4 separate regions of the Homo sapiens genome follow, and regions 1, 2 and 4 are each linked to region 3. The links come from fine-mapping of genetic effects on gene expression. A gene starts in region 3. Each other region holds a variant in brackets. All regions are shown on one strand. Distances are between the middles of the regions. Region 1 overlaps CNR2 (cannabinoid receptor 2). Region 2 overlaps FUCA1 (alpha-L-fucosidase 1). Region 3 holds the start of FUCA1 (alpha-L-fucosidase 1). Region 4 overlaps LOC105376861 (a long non-coding RNA gene).

Region 1 (5,149 bases), 33 kb before region 3:
TAGTGAGCCGAGATCGCACCACTGCACTCCAGCCTGGGTGACAGAGCGAGACTCCAAAAAAAAAAAAAAAAACAATGAAACGAACAAAAAAACCAGAGTTCTGAGTGACATCACCTGGATCACAAAGGAGCTCCCTAGTGGGGCAAAGCTAAGATTCCTGTCTTCAGGCAGTGTGAACTCTGGAATCTGGTAAAGCAGAAAATCGGGAGCCCAAATGCAATTTTTTAACATTTCAAAGGGCCCCCCAGAAAGATTAGAGAGAAGTCCCCGGGAGAAAGCCGCAGGAGCCAGCTGAGCAACTAGGAGGCAGGCTCCTGTGACAGTTGCAGACCTGGGCACAGGTTTGGGTTCACATCGGGCTCTGCCCTTTTGTGCAACCTCAGACAAGTCACTGCATCTTTGCGCCTCCGTCTCCTTGTCTGCAAAACAGAGATGATGATAATAGGACCACCCTTCCTGACTTACTGTGAGGATTAATTGCATTTTACACAACTAGCTATTGTTAAAGTGAAGCTCCCCACAATCCCATTTTCACCCTTGCATTTATGGCCTGGCAGGTTAGGTTCTGCAAGGCTGTTTCACAGATACTATGAGGAGCACTTTTGATATGTTAACCTAGGCATGCCCTTCTTACTGACGCACGTTAAAAAGAAATGCTTTTTTTTTTTTTTTTGACAAAGCCTGGGGTCTCACTCTGTCACCCAGGCTGGAGTGCAGTGGCACATCACGGCTAGCTGTAGCTTCAACCACCTGGGCTCAAGTGGTCCTCCCACCTCAGCCTCCCAAGTGCCTGGGACCACAGGCATGAACCACTACCCCTGGCTAATTTTTTTTTATTTGTAGAGGCGGGGTCTTCCTATGTTGCCCAGGCTTGTCTTGAACTCCTGGGCCCAACCGCTCCTCCCACCTCAGCCTCCCAAATTGCTGGGATTACAGGTGTGAATCACTGCACCCGGCCTCACTTTGAAAATTAGAAAGCAGGTTACCCTCCTTGAGGATGCTGGCATGTGTCAGAGAGAATACCTCCAACCAATCCATTAAAAAGCAGTTATTGCTGCGGCCAGGCCTGGCCCGGCTGCGCTAGGCTAGGCTCTGGCAGGATCGCAGGGGCGGGGGTGGTAGGGGCACGGGTGGCAGCCCCGCGGGTCGCAGCGCCGCCGCCGCCGCCGCCCATGAATGGTGCTGCCCCTGGCCTGCCATCACCGCCGCGTCGCTCAGCGCCCGACCTCCCTGCTTTTGCTTGCAGAGCCGCTCCCGAGGCCCCGGCGCGGCGCGAGGGCGCGGGGCGGGGGTCCACAGGCTCCGAGGCTGCCCCCGACGCCCCGCCCTCGAGGATGGCGGCGGAGCTCTACGTCCCCGCCAGCGCCGCGGCCGCGGTCCTAGCCCACAGCAACGCCGGCGCCGCCGTGGGCAGGAAGGCCGGGCAGCGCAGCCTGCACCGCGCCCCCGCGCCCGCGCCCGCGCAGCCCACACTTGGCAACAACCACCCGGAGAGCCCCAAATGGCGCGGTCCCCCACGCTGCGCGAGAGGAACGCGCTCATGTTCAACAACGAGCTCGTGGCCGACGTGCACTTTGTCGTGGGACCCCCGGGGGCGACCAGGACGGTGCCCGCCCACAAGTACGTCCTGGCTGTCTGCAGCTCCGTCTTCTATGCCATGTTCTACTGGGACCTGGCGGAAGTCAAATCTGAAATTCACATTCCAGACGTGGAGCCCGCAGCCTTTCTGATCCTATTAAAGTACGTGTACAGTGATGAGATCGATCTGGAAGCGGATACGGTGCTGGCCACTCTGTAGGCTGCTAAGAAGTACATCGTCCCAGCATTGGCAAAAGCCTGCGTCAACTTTCTGGGGACAAGTCTGAAAGCCAAGAACGCCTGCGTCCTGCTGTCCCAGAGCCGGCTGTTTGAGGAGCCCGACCTGACCCAGCGCTGCTGGGAGGTCATCGACGCACAGGCCGAGATGGCCCTGCGGTCCCAAGGCTTCTGTGAGATGGACCGGCAGACGTTGGAGATCATTGTCACTCGGGAGGCCCTCAACACCAGGAGGCGGTGGTCTTCAAGGCCGTCCTGAACTGGGCCAAGGCAGAGTGCAAGAGGCAGGGGCTGCCAGTCACCCCACGAAACAAGAGGCATGTTTTGGGGCGAGCCCTCTATCTGATCCGAATTCCAACCATGACCCTAGAGGAGTTTGCCAACGGCGCTGCCCAGTCAGACATCCAGACATCCTGACTCTGGAGGAGACCCACACCATCTTCCTGTGGTACACGGCCACCAACAAGCCCCGCCTGGACTTCCCCCTGATCAAGAGGAAGGGCCTCACCCCGCAGAGGTGCCACCTATTCCAGTCTTCTGCCTACCGCAGCAACCAATGCCAGTACTGCGGGCGCTGCGACAGCATCCAGTTTGCAGTGGACAGAAGGGTATTTATTGCGGGGCTAGGCCTGTGTGGGTCCAGCTCTGGGAAGGCTGAGTACAGCGTGAAGATTGAGCTCAAGAGGCTTGGGGTAGTTCTGGCTCAGAATCTGACCAAATTCATGTCGGACAGATCCAGTAACACCTTCCCGGTCTGGTTTGAACACCCGGTCCAGGTTGAACAAGACACCTTCTACATGGCCAGTGCTGTTCTGGACGGCAGCAACCTCAGCTACTTTGGGCAGGAGGGGATGACGCAAGTGCAGTGCAGAAAGGTGGCCTTCCAGTTCCAGTGCTCCTCGGACAGCACCAACGGGACTGGGGTCCAGGGTGGGCAGATCCCTGAGCTCATCTTCTATGCCTGAGGTGCCCGGGGAGGCTGCAGCAGGTC[G/A]GCGAGTGGATGGAGGGGAAATCAGGACACTAACTGCTTCTTGACACCATGAAAGGCCACACTTAACCTTGTCTCTCTTTGGCATGTAGTCAACTGAAGCTTGATTCTGTGAAGTAGGCACCTTTTCCACACAGCCAGAGCTGGGGGATTGGAGTCTTAGGCATCTCTGGTACACTGGGGTGCACGTCTCAGGTGGAGGAAGATTTAGGGCACAAGACAGGCCCCAGATCCCCTCCCAATGGCACCCATGCCACCTGCTTTGAGGGGTTGCATGTTCCTGCCACCCTCTTGGATACTAAGTGGTTCCAAGCTTAACTGTAGACCTTCCCTTCAAATCTAAAATCGGCAAAAAGTCACTTAAAATAAGGGACTTCTGTAATAAAGGTTGCCTACAATTAAAAAAAGAAAGAGTTACTGAGCAGTGACCATGGGTGAGGCAGGTGCACTTAAGATACGGGAGTGAACAAAACAAATAATAAGCCTTAACTCCCTTGGAGCGACCATTCTAGTGTCCTATTACTCAAATCAGTCTCCCCCAGCATTCGAGGATCAGAGATTTTAAGGACAATTTGGTTGGTAGCTGGAAACGTGGCTCGGTAAAATGGTCCAAGGTGGGAAGGATAAAAATGAGATTAGGGAGGCCAGGCACGGTGGCACATGCCTGTAATCTCAGCACTTTGGGAGGCCAAGGCGGGCGGTTCACCTGAGGTTGGGAGTTCAAGACCAGCCTGATCAACATGGAGAAACCCCATTTCTACTAAAAATACAAACTTGGCCAGGCGTGGTGGCACATGCCTGTAATCCCAGCTACTTGGGAGGCTGAGGCAAGAGAATTGCTTGAACCTGGGAGGCGGAGGTTTCAGTGAGCCGAGATTGCACCATTGCACCCTAGCCTGGGCAACAAGAGTGAAACTGTCTCAAAAAAAAAAAAAAAAAAAAAGAGATCAGGGAAGAGATGGTTGCCCAGAAGTATAAGAGAGACCCCATGCCCCTCCGTCTATAAGCCTCTAGGGGTTCACCTTGCCTGCCGCCTAGACAGAGCCGATTCATCAAGACAGGAGAATTGCAATAGAGAAAGAGTAATTTATGCAGAGCTGGCTGTGCGGGAGACCGGAATTTTATTATTACTCAAATCAGTCTCCACCAGCATTCAAGGATCAGAGTTTTTAAGGACAGTTTGTTTGGTTGCGGGGAGCCAGTGAGCCAGGAGTGCTGATTGGCCAGGGATGAAATCACAGGGGGTCGAAGCTGTCCTCTTGCGCTGAGTCAGTTCCTGGGTGGGGGCCACAAGATCACATGAGCCAGTTTATGGATTTGGGTGGTGCCAGCTGATCCATCAAGTGCAGGGTCTGCAAAGTATCTCAAGCACTGATCGCAGGAGCAGTTTAGGGAGGGTCAGAATCTTGTAGCCTCCAGCTGCATGACTCCTAAACCTTCCTTCCTTTCTTTCTTTCTTTTCTTTCTTTCTTTCCTTTCTTTCTTTCTTTCCTTTCTTTCTCTTTCCTTTCTTTCTCTTTCTTTCTCTTTCTTTCTTTCTCTTTCTTTCTTTCTCTTTCTTTCTTTCTCTCTCTCTCTTTCCTTCCTTCCCTCTTTCTTTCTTTTCTTTCTTTTTTTTCTTTTCTTTCTTTCTTTCTGACAGAGACCCCTCTGTCGCCCAGGCTGGAGTGCAGTGACGCAATCTCAGCTCACTGCACCCTCCACCTTCCAGGTTCAAGTGATTCTTCTGCCTCCCCCTCTCGAGTAGCTGGTATTACAGCATGCACCACCACACCTGGCTAACTTTTGTATTTTTAGTGGAGGCGGAGTTTCAGCATGTTGGCCAGGCTGGTCTTACCTCCTGACCGCAAGTGATCCACCCGCCTCAGCCTCCCAAAGTGCTGGGATTACAGGCGTGAACTACCACACCAGACCCTAAACCATAATTTCTAATCTTGTGCCTAATATTAGTCCTACAAAGGCAATCTAGTCCCCAGCCAAGAAGGAGGTGTACTTTGGGAAAGGGCTGTTATTGTCTTAGTTTTAAACTAAGTTTCTCCCAAAGTTAGTTCAGCCCAGGAATGAACAAGGACACCTTGGAGGTTAGAAGCAAGATGGAGTCAGTTAAGTTAGATCTCTTTCACAGTCTCAGTCATAATTTTGCAAAGGTGGTTTCACATCTAGGCTGCCCAACTTCTGTGGTCAGGGTCTGGCACCAGATATATGAGTCTGAATTCTGACTCTGCCATTTACAAACTTTGTGACCTCGGCAAATCCAGTCTAGCTGAGCCTCTGGTTCCTCATAGATAAGATCGTGAAAATGAGACAGTCTATCTCCAAGGGCAGTTTGGAGGATAAAGGAGACAG
Region 2 (5,149 bases), 24 kb after region 3:
AGTCCCATCATGGGGCCCTGCCCTGATTACCTTATATGATCCTAATTACTTCCCAAAGGCCTCACCTCTAAATACTATACCATCGACATATGAATTTGGGGATTAAGTTTCCATCATGAGATTTGGGAGATGCATTCAAACCATAGTAGTGATTTTCATCCTCTTCTCTAAACATAGTGAAATTTCAGAACAGGCTGGGTGCAGTCTCAGAAAAAAAAAAAAAGAAATCTCTGAACAACAAATTTGTTTTCATTGCATGTCTTGTCCTTGTTATAGTCTCTGCTATTTTCACATGGATTTGGAATAGAAAAGAGATTTGAATAATAAGGTAAATGGCTCTATTTATTTGCAGTAACTGATGTAGGAGATAATTTTTAAAGACAACTTAACCCAATTGGTAGGGAAAATAGATAGTATCACCAGATAGAGTTTTATAGACTGCCTCCTTCCTGCACACCTTCATTGGTATTGAGTTATTGGTGCTCCCTAGTAACAGTGACAGACTCGAGGACTGGGATTTGGTAGATAATTGAAAGGGGAATGAGTGGCCTTGTGCAGTGCTTCATGCCTGTAATCCCAGCACTTTCTAAGGCCAAGGTGGGAGGATCACTTGAGCCCAGCACAACACAGCAAGTTGTGTTGGGCAACACAGCAAGACTCCATCACTTAAAAAAAAAGAAATTAGGCCCAAAACAGTGACTCACGCCTGTAATCCGAACACTTTGGGAGGCCGAGGCGGGTGGATCACCTGAGGTCAGGAGTTCAAGACCAGTCTGGCCAACATGGCGAAACCCCGTCTTTACTAAAAATACAAAAATTAGCAGGGTATGGTGGCAGGCACCTGTAATCCCAGTTACTCAGGAGCCTGAGGCAGGAGAATTGCTTGAACCTGGGAAGTGGAGGTTGTAGTGAGCCAAGATCACGCCACTGCACTCCATCCTGGACAACAAGAGCCTGGACAACAAGGCTTCGTCTCAAAAAAAAAATAAATAAGGAGCTGAGTGCAATGGCTCATACTTGTAATCCCAGCACTTTGGGAGGCCAATGCAGGTGGATCACTTGAGGCCAGGAGTTCAAGACCAGCCTGGTCAACATAGCAAAATGCCATCTCTACTAAAAATACAAAAGTTAGCCAGGCGTGGTGGTGCACACCTGTAATCCAGTGACTCAGGAGGCTGAACCACAAGAATTGCTTGAACCCAGGAGGCGGAGGTTACAGTGAGCCAACATCACACCATTGCACTCCAGCCTGGGCAACAGAGGGAGACTCTGTCTCAAAAAAAAAAAAAAGAAAAGAAAAGAAAATTAACATTAAAAAGGAGGAAATGTATAAAGTTGTATATCAGGATAACAAGTCAGGTATCTTTGACAGTGTTGTTTCTGTTTTCCCAGGTATACCTCAAAGGGATCGGCTGTTTATGCCATTTTTCTGCACTGGCCAGAAAATGGAGTCTTAAACCTTGAATCCCCCATAACTACCTCAACTACAAAGGTAAAGAGGCTTAGTCAGTCTTAAGATGTAACTTTCTGTAAAGGAATTGGCAGATCCTTCCTTTCTTCCTTCCCTGCCAGGTTTCTCCCATATTCACACCTCTTTTAGACTGGCTTTCCTGCCCTGGCCCAGCGTGGCTGTTTCCTACCATAGTCAGCCTGTATTCTATACTCATTAGTGCATTACCAGTTTGTTTCATTCCCTTTTGTTTTCTGCAGATAACAATGCTGGGAATTCAAGGAGATCTGAAGTGGTCCACAGATCCAGATAAAGGTCTCTTCATCTCTCTACCCCAGTTGCCACCCTCTGCTGTCCCCGCAGAGTTTGCTTGGACTATAAAGCTGACAGGAGTGAAGTAATCATTTGAGTGCAAGAAGAAAGAGGCGCTGCTCACTGTTTTCCTGCTTCAGTTTTTCTCTTATAGTACCATCACTATAATCAACGAACTTCTCTTCTCCACCCAGAGATGGCTTTTCCAACACATTTTAATTAAAGGAACTGAGTACATTACCCTGATGTCTAAATGGACCAAAGATCTGAGATCCATTGTGATTATATCTGTATCAGGTCAGCAGAAGAAGGAACTGAGCAGTTGAACTCTGAGTTCATCAATTGTAATATTTGGAAATTATCTACAATGGAATCTTCCCTCTGTTCTCTGATAACCTACTTGCTTACTCAATGCCTTTAAGCCAAGTCACCCTGTTGCCTATGGGAGGAGGTGGAAGGATTTGGCAAGCTCAACCACATGCTATTTAGTTAGCATCAGTTGTCACCAACAGTCTTTCTGCAAAGGGCAGGAGAGCTTTGGGGGAAAGGAAAAGGCTTACCAGGCTGCTATGGTCAACTCTTCAGAAATTTTCAGAGCAATCTAAAAGCGCCAAAATTCGCTATGTTTACAGTGATACTATTAAGAAAATGAATGTGATTCTGCTCTGTCTTTTTAAGTATGATCAAATAAAAAATTTGTACATCACAATCATTTCTACCAAAAAAACATGGTATAGCTTTCTTTTCCTAGTTTCAACTTATACTGCTTATAGCTTTAAGATCAGTTTCTGGTTTGTGTGTGT[T/GT]TTTTTTTTAAGGAGATTTGCAAAATCTCCTTAACACTGAACAAAAAATGTAATTCCTGTGTTTTTTCTGCTTCTCACTTCTAATACCATTCTTCTGAATTGACTACCAGTTCAGCCTCTTTGTTAGAGATCTAATCAAGTTTTCTATTTAATTTTTCCTTAATAGATATGTTTAGAAATCTTGTTTTGTTTTGTTTTGAGGCAGAGTCTTGCTCTGTTGCCCAGGCTGGAGTACAGTGGTGTGATCTCGGCTCACTGCAACCTTCACCTCCCAGGTTCAAGTGATCCTTCCTCCTCAGCCTCCCAAGTAGCTGGGACTATAGGCACACCACGATGCCCAGCTAATTTTTTTTTTTTTTTTTTTTTTGTAGAGACGGGGTTTCACCATGTTGCCCAGGCTAGTCTCGAACTCCTGGGCTCAAGTGATCCACCTACCTCACAGCCTTCCAGAGTGCTGGGATTACAGGTGTGAGCCACCACACCCAGCCAAGTAGATATATTTAGAAATCTTTATCCAACATTTAAGGAATATGTGTTTTTCTCAAGCACATATGGAACATTTGCAAATCTCAAATACCAAAGAAGCAACATCATATAAGCTATTTAGTGTCTACAATATAATTAAAGAACAATAACAAAAACTTGGAGAAGAAAAAACTGTGTTTGTAAAAGTTAAAATACACTAACTCATTATGTTACTGATTCATAAATTTATGGATTGTGCCATGAGATATAAAGAATTCCAAATATGTAGTTCTTGTGAGGCAAATGAAGCCTGGTTGTGAAAGAAAAAAGTAACACATTAGTGTAAGTAGATTAGCACAGCCAATTTTAATTAGATCACTTTCTGCCCAGAATTAGAGAGCAAGCTGATGATAATAATATTGCTTATATGGTTCTTCACAGTCTTAAAGCAACTTCATGCACACTTCTAAAAAAAAAAGAAAAGAAAATACTTGGAATGATAGTAACACTATATATTGAACCTTATAAGATGTAGCTTTAAAAATAAAAGTACTTCAGGAAAATATAGCGTTAAATGTTTATGTTAAAAAGAAGGCTGGAAAGAAGTAATGAAGGCCAGGTACAGTGGCTCACGCCTGTAATCCTAACACTTTGGGAAGGAGAGGCGGGTGGATTTCTTGAGTCCAGGAGTTCCAGACCAGCCTGGGCAACATAGCAAGACCCCATCTCTACAGAAAATACAAAAAGTAACCAGGCGTGGTGGTGCACACCTGTAGTCTCAGCTATTTGGAAGGCTTAGGTGGGAGGATTGCTTGAGCCTGGGAGGTCGAGGCTGCAGTGAGCTGAGATGGATCACACCACTAGACTCCAGCCTGGGTGACAGATCAAAACCCCGTCTCTAAATAATAAAATTTAAAAAGCAAAGGAAGTAAAGGGATGTAAGGAGCAGCAAGGATTAAACCAAACTGTCATTGTTCTCAGGTGATGAAACTGTCCACATAGAAAACCTCAAATAATATACAAATGAATTATTAGAATTAATAAGTTGTTGGATCAGAGACAAAAATCAATTACATTTCTACAGTCCAGAAACTAGAATACAATGAAAATATTCCATTTATCATAACCAAAGATATAAGTAACTAAAATGAAATTAGCAAGAGTTGTGCAAGAAGCACCAAACCATTGCAGCTCCAATGGCCCCAAGTTTCCAGCTTCCATTTCCCAAAGGAAGGGGATGCAAGGGTGACAAGATGGTGCCAGGCAGCCTCTCTCAGACCTTTTGGAGTTTTCTTGACCCAGCCTTGCTGACTTTGTAGAATGTGTTGAGCAAATCCTGTTGGGTGAATCCATGAAAAATTCCAACTCCTGGTGGCAAAATCGCAAAATTCCAGCCCTAGAAATGTTCTCAGATTTTTTTTTTAAGACAGAGTCATGCAGTGGCATGATCTTGACTTACTGCAACCTCCACCTCCCAGGTTCAAGGGATTCACCTGCCACAGCCTCCCGAGTAGCTGGGATTACAGGCACGTGTATTTTTAGTAGAGACGGGGTTTCACCACGTTGCCAGGCTGATCTCGAACTCCTGACCTCAAGTGATCTGCCCGCCTCAGCCTCCCAAAGTGCTAGGATTACAGGTGTGAGCCACTGCGCCTGGCCAAAATGTTCTCAGCTCTTAAATCTTCTAGAAGACACCAAATGTCTGGAGTGGTTTACGGCATGAATCCAGGATCATTTTTATCAAGAGGAGTAGAAGAACCAAGTCCTCAAAAATTTAATTCCAAAGTATGGCCCCAACACTATGTCTTCAATACGTCCAATGTTTCAAGTGTACCCGTGCTCTTGGGCATTATTCAATGATGGCAGCTAAGAAAACTGACAGCCCAACTCCTTTCAAAATCAAGCCCCCAATGTGTCCCCAACAATAATTCAATATTGTATCCAATGTCATTTTTTTTTTTTGAGATGGAGTTTCACTCTTGTTGCCCAGGCTGGATTGCAATGGTTTGATCTTGGCTCACTGCAGCCTCTGCCTCCTGGGTTCAAGTGATTTTCCTGCCTCAGCCTCCCGAGTGGCTGGGATTACAGGCACCCACCACCACACCCGGCTAATTTTTTT
Region 3 (5,149 bases):
GAAGCATGCCTTTCTTTATTCATCGGTGGAATCCTTTCTCATTTTGGCAAAGAAAATGCCCAAGTGCCTGGCACAAACAAGCACTGAGTAAATACTTCTTGAATGAATAAAACTAGATTCTAAAAATCATTTGATCAAACGCAACTCCACACTTTCTACTTCTCTTCTTTTAGAACCACACTGTATTTCTGCTTTTTTTTTTTTTTTTTTTTTTTTTGACATAGAATCTCACTCTGTCACCCAGGTTGGAGTGCAGTGGCATGCAATCTTGGCTCACTGCAACCTCTGCCTCCTGGGTTCAAGCAGTTCTCCTGCCTTAGCCTCCCATGTAGCTGGGATTACAGGTACCCGCCACCATGCCCAGCTAATTTTTGTATTGTTAGTAGAGATGGAATTTCACCATATTGGCCAGGCTGGTCTTGAACTCCTGACTTCAAGTGATCCACCCACCTTAGCCTCCCAAAGTGCTAGGATTACAGGTGTGAGCCACCACTCCCAGCCCCTATGTCTGCTTTAAGTGGAGAAGCAGAGCTTATGAGGGAGGAGAACAAGGGTGCAAAAGGGACCTAGATATCACTGAGAACTGCCCTTGTTGTTTGGTTGAGGAAATGGGCCCAGACAGTGGACAAGACTTGCTCAGGGAGACAAACGAGATGGTGTCCAGTGCAACAAACCTAGGTTTCCTAACTTCCAGTTCTGTCCACTCTACATCAGTGCCTCTCACCTGTCCCTGCAGGTTCACATTTTGGTTATGTGGATAAGGAGAAATAAATTGAAGATCACAATGTCCCATTTTATCTTCCCCAAGACAAGCTCTGTAACATTAAAGACCACTATGCAAACCGATTACTAGAAAATGTGTGTGGATGGGTTCGGTTTTTTTCCTAAGGTGTTCATGCTTACTGTTTTGGGCAATATTTCAACATAATCTGGCAGAAAAAGAAACAGAAGATAAAGAAAATAGCTGTAGGCCGGGTGCAGTGGCTCATGCCTGTAATCCCAGCACTTTGGAAGGCTGAGGCTGGCGGATCACTTGAGGTCAGGAGTTCGAGACCAGCCTGGCCAACACGGCGAAACCCCATCTGTATTAAAAATACAAAAATTAGCCAGGCGTGGTGGCGTACCTGTAAACCCAGCTACTCGGGAGGCTGAGGCAGGAGAATGGCTTGAACCCAGGAGGTGGAGGTTGCAGTGAGCTGAGATTGCAGCACTGCATTCCAGCCTGGGCGACAGAGCAAGACTGCATCTCAAAAGAAAAGAAAAGAAAAAAGAAAAGAAAAGAAAAGAAAACAGCTGTGATTCAGCAATAGTCATTTTCTCTCCTTGTCACTGCCAGAGTGAGGAAGTGCTGGGTTCTGTCAACATAGGCTCTGACTTCTCATGAGGTGCAAGAAAGAAGCAGCATGAACAAAGGCATAGATTTTGCACCTGGAGACACGTATTCTAGTCCCACCTCTGACTCAAACTAGCTGCATGATCTTGGGCAGCCCCCCAGCCCTCTCTGGGCTTCAGTTCCCTCCTCGGTACAATGGGAAGGGTAGGGAAGAGGATGGTGCCTAGGATCTTCAAAGTCCCAACTCTGATGTGCTGCCATTCTCTCACTGGCATGTGGGAACTGAGTGTGCTACGTGGAGTCATGAGACTTCTTCTTCCTTTTCTTTTTCTTTTTTTTTTTTTTTTTTTTTGAGACCGAGTCTCACTCTGTCGCCCAGGCTGGAGTGCAGTGGTGCGATCTCGGCTCACTGTAACCTCCACCTCCCGAGTTCAAGCAATTCTCCTGCCTCAGCCTCCTGAGTAGCTGGGATTACAGGCGCACCCCATGCCCGGCTAATTTTTGTATTTTTAGTAGAGATGGGGTTTCACCATGTTGGCCAGGCTGGTCTCAAACTCCCGACCTCAGGTGATCTGCCCACCTCGGCCTCCCAAAGTGCTGGGATTACAGGCGTGAGCCACCTTGTCTGTTCAGAGACTTCTGACTTCCGTATTTCCCTCGCTAATGGCCTCACCTCCCGTTTGAGTATGTGCAGCATGTGCAAATTGCAGAGGAACTGGGGAACTTCCCTGCCAGGCAATCCTGGGTCCTCTTGGCTCTCCACTTCCTCCTTCCTTCCTTCCTTCCTCCTTCCTTCCTTCCTTCCTTCCTTTCTTTCTTCCTTGGTCTGGCTCTGTCGCCCAGGGGCTGGAGTGCAGTGGCGGTATCTCGGTACAAACTAAGCTATTTGAAATGCCTCGGAATTCCCAAAGAAAGCTCAGTAAATACCAGACAGATGAAACGGTCCTGCCCGCTCTCCCTCTTTCAGTACCCAGTTTTCTCTTTCCTCTCCTTTCATAACGTTTCTTCCCATCATCCCTCTACCTCCTTATTTCTGTCAGGGCTGTTAGATACCCTTCCGGTCTGTTATCTCCTCCTCCAGCCTTGTGCTACAGGACAACTCAAAAGCCCCCTATGGCTCCCAAGTGATCACTAAATAAAACTCGTGATCTCACTTCAGCCTACCCCTGCAGGATTGCTGCGGCAAAATGGACTACTCCCAGAGGCGTGATCACGGTTCGGTTCACTGCAGCCCAGACTTCCCGGGCTCAAGCGATCCCGAACCTCCCACCTCAGCCTCTCGAGTAGCTGGGACTCCAGACGTGCACCACTACGCCAGGCTCATTTTGTTTATTTTTTATAGAGACAGGCTAGTCTCCAACTTGTGGGCTCAGAGCGATCCTCCCGCCTCGACTTCCGAAAGTGTTAGGATTACAGGCGTGAGCCACTGCGTCCGGCTCAATGGACTCCTTCTTAAATGTGAGTTCTCCGCACACACTGGGCCTTGCTCACCTCCACGATTTAACCTCGCAGTTAAGTCCCTTTTCAAGGTTTTTATTCGTCCTTCAGCGAAGCGCTGTCAACGCCTCCCTGCGTCTTTCCCTTCTTGAGCACCAGAGGGCGCTCCTCCGACCCGAGGAGGAAGCGACTCGGGCCAACCTGTCCAGGTTGTCCCACCCCTTTTTCCTTCCGGGCCAATCGTTAGTCAGAGTGGGCGGAGCCGCCCGCGGGCACCTGCGCGTTAAGAGTGGGCCGCGTCGCTGAGGGGTAGCGATGCGGGCTCCGGGGATGAGGTCGCGGCCGGCGGGTCCCGCGCTGTTGCTGCTGCTGCTCTTCCTCGGAGCGGCCGAGTCGGTGCGTCGGGCCCAGCCTCCGCGCCGCTACACCCCAGACTGGCCGAGCCTGGATTCTCGGCCGCTGCCGGCCTGGTTCGACGAAGCCAAGTTCGGGGTGTTCATCCACTGGGGCGTGTTCTCGGTGCCCGCCTGGGGCAGCGAGTGGTTCTGGTGGCACTGGCAGGGCGAGGGGCGGCCGCAGTACCAGCGCTTCATGCGCGACAACTACCCGCCCGGCTTCAGCTACGCCGACTTCGGACCGCAGTTCACTGCGCGCTTCTTCCACCCGGAGGAGTGGGCCGACCTCTTCCAGGCCGCGGGCGCCAAGTGAGTGTGGTCCCGGGGAGCGGCGCCCCTTCCCGGCTCGGGCGGCAAACAGGAGGTGGGGCTGGGCGGCCAGCTGGGGCGCGCAGCTGCCGGTCGCCCCCATGACCCCGGGGCCCGCGTGTGGCCTCCTGCGGCCACAGGAGTGAGCCTGGCACACCTGATGAGGAGGAGGAGGTGCGTTTGACTGGGGACTGATAAATGAAGGTTCAGGGAGATGGCAGGCTGGGAAGCCCTGGGTATCTGCACCTGTGCACCGAGAGGGCTGAGTTAGGCCATACCTGATGTCCCTTTCAGATTGACAGCACTATCAGGACTCCAGGGTTTCAAATCAGTGGTGTGGAGCCTGGTTCTAATTCAACTGTGAACCTGGACATGTCACTTCAGCCTCCCTGCAGCCTCTTCTATGGTTGTAGAAAGGGGTTATATAAGGATACAACCCTTTGAGCCCTAATGTCTCTAAGAGGGAAAGAGAGGGGAGTTCTGGTGTGCAGTGTATTTGGGCAACAGTACAGATAGTCATTCGTTTGCTCCTCTCAATCCCTTTTACGTAGGAAGTGTCCAGGAAGGGTCTGACTCTCTCTGAGAACTGTTGGAACTTGGGGGTGGCTGGTTCAGAGAACAGAGTAGAGAGCGCTGGGGTGGGGATAAGGGGAGACCACGACCCATGAAGTTGTCAAGGCAGGGGCTTGTCCTGAAGGAGTGAGCCTTGAGAGCCCTGTATTGACAGATGTTAAGTCAGGGAGTGGTTACTATCAGCTTCTAGAAAGATTCATTCGGCTGCTGGGAGAGAAGTGGGTTGGAGAAGAGTAAAAATGGAGGCGGGGAGGTTTCCCCAGCCCCTGGCTTAGAGCAGTCTTCCATCCTTACCTTGGTTCCTCAGCCATCTTCCGGGTTTTCGTTTCTCTTGAACTTTGAATTCACTTGTACTAAAGAGAAGTTACAACTGGCATTTAGTGTTTGCCATTAAATGTATGGGAGTATAAGACTTGATTAAGCAGAGGAAGTGTTTGTCTCCTAGGGGCCTTAGGGATCCATAACTTACAAGTGAGAAAAATTAAAATCTGGGAGATAACCTCTTTCCATGCCTTTTATTTCATGGATGAGATGACTGGCCCAAAGAGAGGAAGGAATATAATGTCCTAGACTCCAGGTCTCATGACGTCAAGGTTGTTTCCACTGCACCAGGGTCTGCAAACTGGCCAGAGGGATTGGTCCTCTGCCAGTTTTTTAAGGCCCATGAGGTGAGAATGGTTTTTACATTTTTAAAGGGTTGTAAAATGTTTTAAAGAAGAATACACTACAGAGAGGAATGTGCTCCCACAGAGCCTAAAATACTATCTGGCCCTTCAAATCCTGGAGTTCCCTACTCTGGCCAATGATTGAACCATAAAGTGCATTACCTATTTTTGTGCCATAAAAGCAAATTAAATATTGAGTGATTTGGTTGTTATTTCAACACTTGCCTTTTCTCCCAGTTATTGGGTCTTTTGTCACCTCTATAATAAATGAGAGGCAATTTATGTAGGCTTGGTAAACCAAACAGCTTAGTTTTCTAGAAAGTTTTCTATTTTGTTGTTATTGTTGTTTTGAAACAGTTTTGCTCTGTAGCCCAGGCTGGAGTACAGTTGCATGATCTCGGCTCACTGCAACCTCTGTCTCCCAGGCTCAAGTGATT
Region 4 (5,149 bases), 36 kb after region 3:
AATTTTATTAGACTCAAAGAACCAAGTTTCTTTTTTGTTGTTGTTGTTGTTGGATGATCCTCTTTGTTGTAATATTTTCTTATTTTATTCAAATTTCTACCTTTTCAGGCCAGGTGCAGTGGTTCATGCCTGAAACCCAGCACTTCAGGAAGTTGAGGCAGGCAAATCGCTTGAGCCCAGGAGTTCATGGCGAAACCCCCTCCACAAAAAATACAAAAATTAGCTGGGTATGATGGTGTATGCCTGTAGTCCCAGCTACTCGAGAGGTTGAGACAGGAGGATCACTTGAGCCCATGAGGTTGAGGCTTCAGTGAGCTGTGATCAGACCACCACATTTTACTCTGGGCAACAGAGCAAGATGCTGTCTCAAAAAACAAACAAATTTCTGTCTTTTATTTTGTCTTTTATTTTACTTACTTTTTGTCTGTTGTTTTTCTCACACCTTTTTCTTTTCTTTTCTTTTTATTTATTTATTTATTTTTGAGATGGAGTCTTGCTCTGTCACCCAGGCTGGAGTGTAGCAGCATGATCTCGGCTCACTGCAACCTCTGCCTCCCAGGTTCAAACGATTCTCCTGCCTCAGACTCCCGAGTAGCTGTGACTACAGGCGTGTGCCAACATGCCCGGTTAATTTTTGTATTTTTAGTAGAGATAGGGTTTCACCATGTTGGCCAGGCCAGTCTCAAACTCCTGACCTCAGGTGATCTGTCTGCCTCGGCCTCCTAAAATGCTGGGATTACAGGCATGAGCCACTGCATCTGGCCTCACATCTTGAGTTAGAAACTTCATTCACTACTCTTCAACTACCTTTTCCAATACAAGCATTTGTCTTTTAATATATTTCCATTATCATTTAATTCTAAGTATATTGTAATTTCTTTTTTTTTTTTTTTTCCTTTGGAGATGGACTCTTGCTCTGTCACCCAGGCTGGAGTGCAGTGGTGTGATCTCGGCTCACCGCAACCTCCGCCTCCTGGGTTCAATTAATTCTCCTGCCTCAGCCTCTGTAGTAGCTGGGATTATGGACATCAGCCACCATGCCCAACTAATTTTTGTATTTTTAATAGAGACAGGGTTTTGCATGTTGGTCAGGCTGGTCTTGAATTCCTGACCTCAAGTGATCCACCCTTCTCAGCCTCCCAAAGTGCTGGGATTACAGGCAGGAGCCGCCACACCCGGCCTATTATAATTTCTTTCTTTTCTTTTCTTTTTTTTTTTTTTAGACCGAGTCTTGCTCTTCTTGCCCAGGCTGGAGTGCAATGGCACAATCTTGGCTCACTGCAACCTCTGCCTCCCAGGTTGAAGCTATTCTCCTGCCTCAGCCTCCCAAGTAGCTGGGATTACAGGCACCTGCCACCACGCCCAGCCAATTTTTTGTATTTTTAGTAGAGACAGGGTTTCACCATGTTGGCCAGGCTGGTCTCAAACTCCTGACTTCAGGAGATCCACCTGCCTCAGCCTCCCAAAGTGCTGAGATTACAGGTGTGAGCCACTGTGCCTGGCCTATAATTTCTATTTTGATTTTTTCTTTGACCCATGAGTTAGGGTTTTTTTCCCCATACTTTCCAAGCATAAAGTTATGTCTAACTTAATTGCTCTAACTTGAGTTTTCCATCAGAATTGTGTAAACTGAACCAATTGAGATGTCTATGGTGTTGGCTACTGTTTGTGCTGTTAATTGTCGGTCCTCTTCAATTAAGGCACAAACAAGATGAGTTTATTCCCCAAAAATTGATGTGTATGACCTGCTGCTGTGGGCTTCATTTTCAACATAATCTCATCTCTTCTTAAAATGAGTTATCCAGTTGGGTATGGTGGCTCATGCCTGCAATCCCAGCATTTTGGGATGCCAAGGTGAGAGGATCACTTGAGCCCAGGAGTTCAAGACCAGCCTTGGCAACATAGTAAGACCCTCATCTCTACAAAAAATACAAAACAAAAAATTTAGCTGGGTATGGTGGCATGTGCCTGTCATCCCAGCTACTTGAGAGGCTGAGGTGGGAGGATCACTTGAACCCAAAGGCTCAAGGCTGCAGTGAGCTATGATTGTGCCACTGCACTCCAGCCTGGGTGACAGAGAAAGACCCTGTCTCAAACACACACACACACACACACACACACACACACACACACACACTTATCCATTTGTCATTAATTATGGTTAATTAATAGGATATACATGTCACCAATTTTTTGAAATTTGCTTTATGGACCAGAATATCATAAACATTCATAAAAGTTGACACTGACTAAGTTCCACTACTGTAAAAAGTCTGCTATTGCTCTCACAGGATTTGCAGAAAGGCAGATGTTGGATTTAAACATTATTATTCCCACTTGCAGAAGAGATGTCATCTGCTTTTAAGGAAAAGCTATAAACAGAAATTTGCTGTTGTGCATTAGAAATGCAATCTGAGGCCAGGCGTGGTGGCTCATGCCTGTAATTTCAGCACTTTGGGAGGCCGAGGCGGGTGGATCACCTGAGGTCAGGAGTTTGAGACCACCAGCCTGACCAATATGGTGAAACCCCGTCTCTACAAAAATTAGCCAGGTGTGGTGGTGGGCACCTGTAGTCCCAGCTATTGGGGAGGCTGAGACAGGAGAATTTCTTGAACCCAGGAGGTGGTGGTTGCAGTGAGCCAAGATCACGCCACTGCATTCCTGCCTGGCGACAGAGCAAGACTCCGTCTCATTAAAAAAAAAAAAATTAAAAAGAAAAAAAAAAGTCCTGGGAAAAAAAACTATTACCATAAAATCTGAAGGTCTGAGAAAGGTGCACAGAATTGTGGTGAATCTTATTTACTACTGCGGTCTTAGCACCTAGCACCAACTTGTGCCTTAATCACAGCAGCCATCTCTTTTAGTAATTTGGAGAGAAAGGAAGAGGAAAGAGGGAATAGTGTTATCATGTAGCAAAGAAAGCATTCTCTAGAGTCAGATTTGGGTCTGAACTTACCTACCATACATGATCTTAGAAAAGTTATTTAATGTCTCTTAAGCCTC[C/T]GTTTCCTCATTTCTCAGATGGAAAGAGTAACATTTATGTTGCAGAGTCTGATTACTCATGAAAAGTTACTATATATCACAACCAATACAGAAAATATACTTAATAAATGGTAGGGGCTATTGTTAATAATTATTGTAAGCTTTGTAATTGAGGGTGGGTTACAATGCAAAAAAGGAAACATCTTGGTTAAAATAAGATTCCAACTAAGGGTGACCCTGAGCAAAGTCTGTAACAGTTGCTAGTGTTACTCTTTCAGTATTTACTTCATGCCACCAAATGTGCCTGGTATTGGAGACACCACATTCAACAACCAGTTAAAGTCTCTGCCCTTTAGTTTAGACATTTGCCTCAGAGCTGTGCTTGTAAGTTATTTACTTTTGAGAATTTGCCAACAAGGGCTTTTAGGGGGGCAAACAGAGGAAGGAGAGAAGCCTCGTGTCTGTGACAATTAGGAGTAGTAGGGACTGGGGAGCTGGCAAGGGTATGCCTTGCCTAAGTCTTTTTTTCTTGTGCAGTTACTTATTTTTTTTTATTGTTTAAAATATATATAGCATAAAGTTTACCATTTTAATTCAGTGCCATTAAGTACATTCACATTGTTATACAACCATCTCCACTATCCAGAACTCCTTCATATCCCAAACTGAAATTCTGTACCCATTAAACAATAACTCCCAATTTCTTTCCACTCCCAGCCCCCAATAACTACTATTCAACTTTCTTTCTCTATGAATTTGACTATAATAAAGTCCTCATTGTAATAGTTAGGATTCTCCAGAGAAACAAAACCAATAAAAGATGATATATAGGCCGGACCCAGTGGCTCACGCCTGTAATCCCAACACTTTTGGAGGCTGCTGGAGCACCTGAGGTTAGGAGTTCAAGACCAGCCTGGCCAACATGGTGAAACCCCGTCTCTATTAAAAAAAAATGCAAAAATTAGCCAGGCGTGTTGTTGGGTGCCTGTAGTCCCAGCTACTCGGTAGGCTGAGGCGGGAGAATCGCTTGACCCGTGGAGGTTGCAGTGAGCCAAGATCGCGCCACTGCACTCCAGCCTGGGCAACAAGAGCAAAACTCTATCTTAAAAAAAAAAAAAAAAAAGATATGTATATGTATGAAATATGATCTGCTGTCAGCAAGCTGGAGACCAAAAAAAGCCAGTGAGGTGTAGCTCCAGTTGAAGCCCAGGGGCCTGAGAATGAGAGGAACCAATGGTGTAGTGTAAGTCCCAGTCTGAATGTAGAAGAGAGAATTCTTCCTTCCCCACCTTTTTGTTCTATTCAGGCCTTCGAAGAATTGGATGATGCCCCCCACATTGAGGGAGTAATCTGCTTTACTCCCTTTACTGATTCAAATGCTAACCTCATTCAGAAATGCCCTCACAGACACACCCGGAAATAATGTGTAGTCAAATATTTGGATACCCTGTGGCCTAGTCAAGTTGACACATAAAATTAACCATCACACCCACATAAGTGGAATCATGAAATTTGCCCTTTTGTGTCTGGCTTAGCAGAATATTTTTAAGGTTTATCCATGTTGCAACATGTGTCAGAATTGTATATCTTTTCAAGAATGAGTAACTATTGTAGGTATACAATATAGCACATTTTGTTCATCCATTTATCTGTTAATGCACATGTGCGTTCTGTACGCCTTTTGGCCATCACAGATAATGTTACTATGAGCAACATTATTGCTCATTGTGTTAGACAGGGTTCTCCAGAGAAACAGAACCAATAGGAGAGTTTTTATATATATATATATATATATATATATATATATATATATATACACACACACACACATATGCATATATAATAAGTATATTATATATAAATATACTATATAAAAATATATAATTATAAATAAAATAAAATATAATATATTTATTATATAATTTGTTATATAATAATTTATAAGTATATATTATATATTAATATATTTAAAATTATATATGTAAATTTATATATACATAAAAGCTACTCAGGAGGCTGAGGTGGGAGGGTCACCTGAGCCCAGGGAGGTGGAGGCTGCAGTGAGCTGTGATTGCACCACTGCACTCCAGCCTAGGTGACACAGTAAGACCCTGTCTCAAAAAAAAAAAAAAAATTAGGCTGGGCGCGGTGGCTCACACCTGTAATC

Evidence for each region. PIP is the estimated chance that this variant, and not a neighbour inherited with it, causes the effect.
Region 1: its variant is fine-mapped to the expression of FUCA1 in whole blood (INTERVAL, PIP above 0.99).
Region 2: its variant is fine-mapped to the expression of FUCA1 in whole blood (TOPMed, PIP above 0.99).
Region 4: its variant is fine-mapped to the expression of FUCA1 in whole blood (TOPMed, PIP above 0.99).

Annotation. Positions count from the first base shown.
Region 1 is chr1:23,899,102-23,904,250 of GRCh38, reverse strand. The region is part of intron 1 of CNR2 (cannabinoid receptor 2); the gene reads left to right. It also overlaps the pseudogene BTBD6P1. Among named protein-coding and RNA genes, the nearest start is that of CNR2, 12 kb to the left of the region's middle. The variant G/A (reference allele first, on the strand shown) is at 2,807.
Region 2 is chr1:23,842,417-23,847,565 of GRCh38, reverse strand. It overlaps FUCA1 (alpha-L-fucosidase 1), which reads left to right. Exons shown (of 8, transcript NM_000147.5): 7 at 1,393-1,492; 8 at 1,711-2,489. The coding sequence ends at 1,851. Among named protein-coding and RNA genes, the nearest start is that of HMGCL, 20 kb to the right of the region's middle. The variant T/GT (reference allele first, on the strand shown) is at 2,566.
Region 3 is chr1:23,866,223-23,871,371 of GRCh38, reverse strand. FUCA1 (alpha-L-fucosidase 1) reads left to right here and starts at 3,082. Exons shown (of 8, transcript NM_000147.5): 1 at 3,082-3,474. The coding sequence starts at 3,086. It overlaps CNR2 (cannabinoid receptor 2), which reads left to right. Exons shown (of 2, transcript NM_001841.3): 2 at 1-857. RefSeq lists a silencer at 3,451-3,670 and an enhancer at 4,921-5,149.
Region 4 is chr1:23,829,763-23,834,911 of GRCh38, reverse strand. The region is part of intron 1 of LOC105376861 (a long non-coding RNA gene); the gene reads left to right. Among named protein-coding and RNA genes, the nearest start is that of HMGCL, 6.9 kb to the right of the region's middle. The variant C/T (reference allele first, on the strand shown) is at 3,004.